Linked DNA regions of Homo sapiens. The protein of the gene in region 1 purifies or fractionates together with the protein of each later gene. This does not show direct contact. Each region holds a gene or a part of one and is shown on either strand. Other genes may lie near its edges.

Region 1 (4,129 bases):
AAATATAAAAGCTAAGTTCTTACCACCAACATGAACAAGTGAAATACACTTATTTGATGGAAAACTTACGGGCACAAAGCAATTGTTGACCAAATAGCAGAAACCAGTCTACAAAAATCATAATTAAAAATACAAGTATAATTCTGTTAATTAGGCATAGAAATTTATAATCTCCACGTCTTACAATTGTCCAGTGTTTATTCATGTACCTAAATTAAACTAAAATAATTTCAATCCAGGCAAACCACCCTGAAAGATTTTTTTCTTAAGATGTTTATATCTAAACCCATGCTCAGATCAGCAAAAACATTTAGAAAGGAAAATATTCTATTAAATTTTTTAAAAACATTTTATTGGGGGATCGTTAAATATAAATAATCCATTTTAAATAATATAAACACGTAGCAGAAGTACATAAAACATACTTTCATTTTCTAAAACATAGAGAACAGTAACTTCTTCGCCTCCAAAAGAACAGACCATTTAATACCATTTAAAAAAATCTTTTGGCATTCCTATTGCCCTTCCCATAACTAAATGAATCAGTGACACGTGTATATATATACATATATTGGAGATGGAGTTTCGTTCTTGTTGCCCAGGCTGGAGTGCAATGGTGCAATCTTGGCTCACTGCAACCTCTGCCTCCCGGGTTCAAGTGATTCTCCTGCCTCAGCCTCCCAAACAGCTGGGATTACGGGCGCCCAGCTAATTTTTTCTACATGTTGGTCAGGCTGGTCTCGAACTCCTGACCTCAGGTGATCCTCCCACCTCGGCCTCCCAAAGTGCCGGAATTAGAGGCGTGAGCCACCACACCCAGCCCTGATGTATATATTTGAATCTGCTGTTTATTCATATGTTGAATAAACATTCACAGTTGGGATTACTGGCATACATCTTCCACAATTATAACATTATTTTAGCTAGTGAATAATAAAACTAATTTGATTTTGGTTAACTTCTTTTCAATACAGATGGTTTAAAAATAAGACAAAGCCTGTCTTTTTCTATTGTGATCTTAAAAATATCTTTCTAACATGCTTTTTAAAAAAAATACATAAGTATGCTACCACTGCCTTGTAGTAAACTTTAGAAAATGTTGAGATTCCAAAGGGCTGCCTACAAACCAAATGGCATCCTAGCTTTGGCAGGCTGATGCTTCATTTTGGCTGCTCTCGCCCCCTCTAGCGTTTGCAAAGCTCATCTGTCTGATTATCCAGTTACCTCACTGAACAAGATCTTGGCTAAGTCCTGCCCATCTATGACATCACCCCCTTCTTCAGCCACTGCGAGGTGAAGCTTTAAACTTCAGACTTGGAGGTGGGCTGTGTGCAGTAAACTGGAATGCTCTCCCTCGCTCACTCCTCAGTGTAGGAGTGATCTGAAGCAGGACAAGCTCAGCCTGCAGCTGCCGTGGGCTTTGTGTGGACTGGACGCAGAGCTTGGGAGACGGGGGAGGGCTATTACTCCAATTCACTGTCAATGGAATTACAGCTATAGCGGCAGTGTATATAGGATTGCTTTTTCTCGTCTTCCTGGTAAGTGTTTTCCATGTTTTTTCTTATGATTGTCCCAGAAAGTTTGCTTGGTTTTACTCTCTAGAAAGAAACGACTTGATACTATGAGAAATCCAAATAGGAACGTTTGCTCTGTCACCACAACAAGCAATATATGTGCGTGCAAGCCAGCAATGAAAAATTTCACTATCATGGCTGAATGTAAGAAGTTTCTTAGAACCTTCTTTCATTTATAAAAGATAGTAAGTGGCTATTTTCTGTCTTGAGTAATTGCTATGTGAAAAGAGCCTTATGGAAAACAGCAAGTTGGAAAGTTCAATGTTAAATATTAAAGAATACAAGGAGATTCTTCACAGATAGGAAAGCAACTTGGTGTGTACTGTACGTGTGGGATGATCACCAATTGCTGTTTTTACAACTGTGAAAGAAAATCAATAATCCCTCAGCCCATGAGTACGCAGTACATGAAAAGCATACATCTTGCTCACAGCTAGCCGAGCTACTCCTGGAGACTTATGTGCCTCTGTAAAGGATTAACAGCTACACCTAGATTTTAAAGCTTGCACTGCTATCGTGCCTGAGCTGCTTCAAGCATTTCAGGCTTGCAAATCTCAACTAGTAAATTGAACTCAGAGGAGGGGGAGACACTCTTCCAAACCATATTCCCTCTTCAATAGAACACCAAAATCCATTGCTTAGGCAAGTGAAGTATGTGACTAGCATAGTAAATGGCTAAGTCTACTCAGAAAAACTAACAAAGCTCACCCTGGAAGCTATGCCTGATGTATGCAGTGAGTTTGGGGTAGCAGGAAAGAAAAATAAATGAGTAGAGCCCTTATCAAGTGGGTTTTGCAGAGGATCCATTCTTTGCAACTTATAATAGGAAAATCTTATATTGGAAGAAATGCATTTATACTACAAAGCTTGAAAAAGTAGTTAAATGTATCTTCTCAAAAAATTTTGTTCACTGAATTAGGTCTGAAACAAAATGGTTGCATATAGGTAAAGAGTGCAACAGGCCCATCCATGTCTTCTCAACATCTGGGGGGTTTGTTTTTATTATTTTATTTAGAATTTAAAAGAAAAAAAATTGATTTTTTTTTCAATTTTTAGTCCAAAATCTCTAATGGTTTTAATAATAAGGCTATTTTAAACATTCTTAATAAATCTGTCTATTAATAAATCTGTCTAAAATGCTCATCTATGTTATTTTATTATCCAGAAACAACATAAATAAAGCCACTAGAAAAGTCCTTCAGCTGTAGCAATGCCTTTCATTTATCTCTGACTGCATAAAAATATCCTGACCAGCCTAAACATAAAGAATAAATTTGCTTATATTCAGGGAGAATCACTTATACCTGACCCAAAGTGACAGATGACTAATATTCATCTCTTCCGAAATGAGTAAAGAAAAATTAATCCTTTAAAAGTGCCACAATCAATAATATCAACATTACCAACTACTACAAATATTAATGATAATATGCCAGGTTTTACCATGGGAAAATTAAATCAGAGATATGCCCCTTAGTTTGGACACATATATATACACACAGACAAACGCACATCTATTTATTACCCTGAAATAAAAACAGAGTTACAAAAACGCATAGATTTACTAAGAAAACTAAAATTTGATTTTTTGAAGAGCACAACCAAAACACATCAAGTCCAAGGATCAGCAAAATATTAGTGAATGAATAAACATAATGAATTCATTAATATTGCGGTTCTGTAAAACTGTCTACCAGTTACTAATTGGGTTTTTCATTTCGCTGCACCCCACCCTTTAAAATCAATTATGACTGGGTTCAAAATGCACAATTAAACACTTCCCAAACATAACGTTTGTGAGATATATAATTGGATAGCAAATAAAGTTTTTACAAAAAGAAGAAAAACAGTAAGAAAATCTGTCATAACTAAATGTGGCAGCAAAATAGAAGGTATGTTTCTTTTGCTTTCAAGTGTTAATTAAGGAGCCTACAATTCTATCAAAACTTTTTCAGAGCTAAATGAAGCAGTGTGAAATAAATTTGGTTGAAATCTTGTGGCTGTCAGACTTTGTTAGCAAGCTATTAATTATCTTTACCCCAGTTTCTTCTCTAGACTATATTGCCCAATCAAATAGAAACTCCAATTATGCTCAGCATCTCCTGCCTAGGGACACAAGACCCTAATGAACACTCAGTCTCTCTAGATGAAAAATACAATAATCAGCTTTAAACATGCAAGTGCACTGCAGAGAGATTTTTCTGTGCTTTTCTTGGCCACACACCCTAAGGCTTCCTCCTTTTTCTGGATTATTTTGAACAGTTTTAAGCCCTACAAAAATCAGTGCAGGGAATTGGCCTTGTCTTAATAATATATTAATGTTTCTTCTTTCTTGCTTTTCATTTTTGATATGCCAATGTTCATACCAATATTAAATCTGGTCAATGAAAAAGTATTGGTTTATAGTTGCCATTTCAGTCATTTCTTAACTTCTATGCCTCTTTTTAAGGTGGGTGGGCTATATAACAAAGAATGTGATTGATTAATGGCAAAATCCAGAGCTAACTTAAAAATTCTGAATAGATCCCCTTATATATTCTTTTATTCAAACCCAT
Region 2 (3,500 bases), on another chromosome or scaffold:
TCCCTGCTGGGGGAGGCCCAGAGGGTCAGGCATGGAGCACAAATGCCTTGCTGATGGTAGCTTCTCTCCTGTCCCCACAGAATGGTGCTGTGCCCAGCGAGGCCACCAAGAGGGACCAGAACCTCAAACGGGGCAACTGGGGCAACCAGATCGAGTTTGTACTGACGAGCGTGGGCTATGCCGTGGGCCTGGGCAATGTCTGGCGCTTCCCATACCTCTGCTATCGCAACGGGGGAGGTACCCAGTGGGCACAGGGCAGGGACCACCCACTTGGGTAGAGCCCACCCACCAGGGCCTGGGCCACCCTCTCCCTGGCACAGACCCACTCCAGATAAAGGCTGGCCTCTGGCCCTGGCCTCCTTCGCCCCCATCCCTGGCTTAGGCACCCTTTGCCTAAGGCAGGCCACCCCAGACCCTGGCAGTCTGTTGTTGGGGGCTGGCCCTGCCAGTTGGCCCCCTTTGAGGTGAGGAGAGGTGAGAAAAGGACCTAACCCCCCCCCCCCCCCGCCCACAAGGCTCCCTGTTCTATTCCCTGGGGTTCAGCAGCCCCCCTAAATGGTTCAGGGATGTTGAGGATCTCAGCAACTTATGCTTGTGAAATCGCTTGTTTAAACCATCAAATCCCACCCAAGTATGGAGGCTCTGGGACCTGGATTCCACTCCAAGCAGAATTCCTGAGAGCCTCTGTCAAGTTGAAAGACAGGCTGGGGGTGGTGTGCCTCAGCCCAGGCTCCTGCTCAAGCCTGGCACACTCCTCCCTGGGTCCTACCCAATCGCGAAGGTTTTGCTGTTGAGTTCTGAGCAGGAAGCCCAGGGTGAGATCCCTCCAAGCCCACTCCTGAGCCAGACCTCTCCCTGCCTACCAGGCGCCTTCATGTTCCCCTACTTCATCATGCTCATCTTCTGCGGGATCCCCCTCTTCTTCATGGAGCTCTCCTTCGGCCAGTTTGCAAGCCAGGGGTGCCTGGGGGTCTGGAGGATCAGCCCCATGTTCAAAGGTGAGGCCTGGGCGGGGCACTCGCTCACACATACACAAACACACAACGGCCTCTGAGGGCCGTGCCAACTCGCCCATCTGTACAAACATGGCTGACCTCTGTAGAGCCCTGATGCTGACCCCAAGCCCCACATCAACGGCCTAAGCCATGGATGCATGCTGGGACCCATGTTTACTTGGCTGCCACCCTCCCCTCCTACCACGTGTACACACAAAACTCCTTTGCGCCACCCCCCGCCAACTTACCCCTACCAAGACCTTGACCTGGCCTTCCTTTGGCCCTCCATCTCAGCCTGCCCCTTGGGCCCTTAGAAATTATTAACCTCGGGCCAGGCACAGTGGCTCACGCCTGTAATCCCAGCACTTTGGGAGGCCAAGGCAGGCAGATCACCTGAGGTCAGGAGTTTGAGACCAGCCTGACCAACATGGAGAAACCCCATCTTGGCCGGGCGCGGTGGCTTACCCCTGTAATCCCAGCACTTTGGGAGGCCAAGGCAGGCGGATCACAAGGTCAGGAGATCAAGACCATACTGGCTAATACGGTGAAACCCTGTCTCTACTAAAAATACAAAAACAAAATTAGCTTGGTGTGGTGGCAGGTGCCTGCAGTCCTAGCTACTCTGGGGGCTGAGGCGGGAGAATGGCGTGAACCCGGGAGGCAGAGCTTGTAGTGAGCCAAGATCATGCCACAGCACTCCAGCCTGGGCGACAGAGGGAGACTCCATGTCAAAAAAAAAAAAAAGGAAACCCCATCTCTACTAAAAATACAAAATTATCCAGATATGGTGGCGCATGCCTCTAATCCCAGCTACTCGGGAGGCTGAGGCAGGAGAATCGCTTGAACCTGGGAGGCGGAGGTTGCAGTGAGCCGAGATCGCGCCATTGCACTCCAGCCTGGGCAAGAAAAGCAAAAACTCCGTCTCAAAAAAAAAAAAAAAAAAAAAAAGGCCGGGCGCGGTGGCTCACGCCTGTAATCCCAGCACTTCGGGAGGCCGAGGCAGGCGGATCACGAGGTCAGGAGATCAAGACCATCCTGGCTAACACAGTGAAACCCCGTCTCTACTAAAAATACAAAAAAATTAGCCAGGCGTGGTGGTGGGCGCCTGTAGTCCCAGCTACTCGGTAGGTTGAGGCAGGAGAATGGCATGAACCCAGGAGGTGGAGCTTGCAGTGAGCCAAGATTCCGCCACTGCACTCCAGCCTGGGTGTCAGAGCCTGGGCAACAGAGCTAGACTCCATCTCAAAAAAAAAAAAAGAAAAGAAAAGAAAAAAAAGAAATTATTAACCTCACCTCCTCCTGCTGGATGCTGAGGCTCCTCCCCCCACCCCTCCCCTCCTGCAGGAGTGGGCTATGGTATGATGGTGGTGTCCACCTACATCGGCATCTACTACAATGTGGTCATCTGCATCGCCTTCTACTACTTCTTCTCGTCCATGACGCACGTGCTGCCCTGGGCCTACTGCAATAACCCCTGGAACACGCATGACTGCGCCGGTGTACTGGACGCCTCCAACCTCACCAATGGCTCTCGGCCAGCCGCCTTGCCCAGCAACCTCTCCCACCTGCTCAACCACAGCCTCCAGAGGACCAGCCCCAGCGAGGAGTACTGGAGGTGAGGCACCTGCAGGACCTGGGGTGGGGGGAACCTGGTGGCAACCCTGTCCCCACTGGGCAACCATCTGAAGACAAAGTAGGGTGCCTGCTGCAGGTTCAGCCCGCTGCTGGGCTGGGAGAGGGTAGAGGTGAGTGAAGAGTTTAGGAGAAGAGCCTGATGTACAGAAAGCAATGGAAGATGGAGGCCGGGCACGGTGGCTCATGCCTGTAATCCCAGCACTTTGGGAGGCCGAGGCGGGCAGATCACGAGGTCAGGAGATCGAGACCATCCTGGCTAACACGGTGAAACCCTGTCTCTACTAAAAATACAAAAAGAGAAAAGAATTAGCCGGGCGTGGTGGCAGGCACAGGAGAATGGCGTGAACCCGGGAGGCAGAGCTTGCAATGAGCTGAGATCGCGCCACTGCACTTCAGCCTGGGCGACAGAGCAAGACTCCATCTCAAAAAAAAAAAAAAAAGAAAGAAAGCAATGGAAGATGGAATGTTGAGTTGCAGGATCTTTACAGAGTAGCCGTGAGGAAGGCCGTCAGAAATCCAGCAAACCAGCCTTCAGAGGAGACTCAGGGGAAAGGGGGGCAGATCCTGGGGAGAAGAAGAGTGTGGGCAAAGGCTCTGTCCCAGATGAGCAGAGGCTGGCCCCAAAGCTGAAGGGAGCCTACTCTGATGAGAGTAACAGGTGTGGGGAGAATGCATGGGCTTCAGGTGGCCTAGGAAGTGGCACTGCCTTCATAAAGAACTTGCCAGGATTAGGCTTAGACTTGATGATGCAGAACAAAAGACGCCATGGAAGGTCTCTGAGCCGGGGGTGCCGTGATCAAGACATCCTGGCACATTTTGTTCAGAGGCGACAGAGACCAGAGTCTCAGGCCATCCTGCTGTGCCCTCCAC

The links.
Region 2: the proteins of FLRT3 (region 1) and SLC6A9 fractionate together in Homo sapiens (co-fractionation; one large-scale study listed by BioGRID). This does not show direct contact.

What each region holds. Positions count from the first base shown.
Region 1 is NC_000020.11:14,334,813-14,338,941, reverse strand, and holds the start of FLRT3 (leucine-rich repeat transmembrane protein FLRT3 precursor), read left to right. Parts: upstream 1-1,329; 5' UTR 1,330-1,538; intron 1,539-4,129. UniProt on the Homo sapiens protein: Functions in cell-cell adhesion, cell migration and axon guidance, exerting an attractive or repulsive role depending on its interaction partners. Plays a role in the spatial organization of brain neurons. Plays a role in vascular development in the retina.
Region 2 is NC_000001.11:44,007,463-44,010,962, reverse strand, and holds part of SLC6A9 (sodium- and chloride-dependent glycine transporter 1), read left to right. Parts: intron 1-80; coding exon 81-237; intron 238-866; coding exon 867-998; intron 999-2,339; coding exon 2,340-2,610; intron 2,611-3,500. UniProt on the Homo sapiens protein: Sodium- and chloride-dependent glycine transporter. Essential for regulating glycine concentrations at inhibitory glycinergic synapses.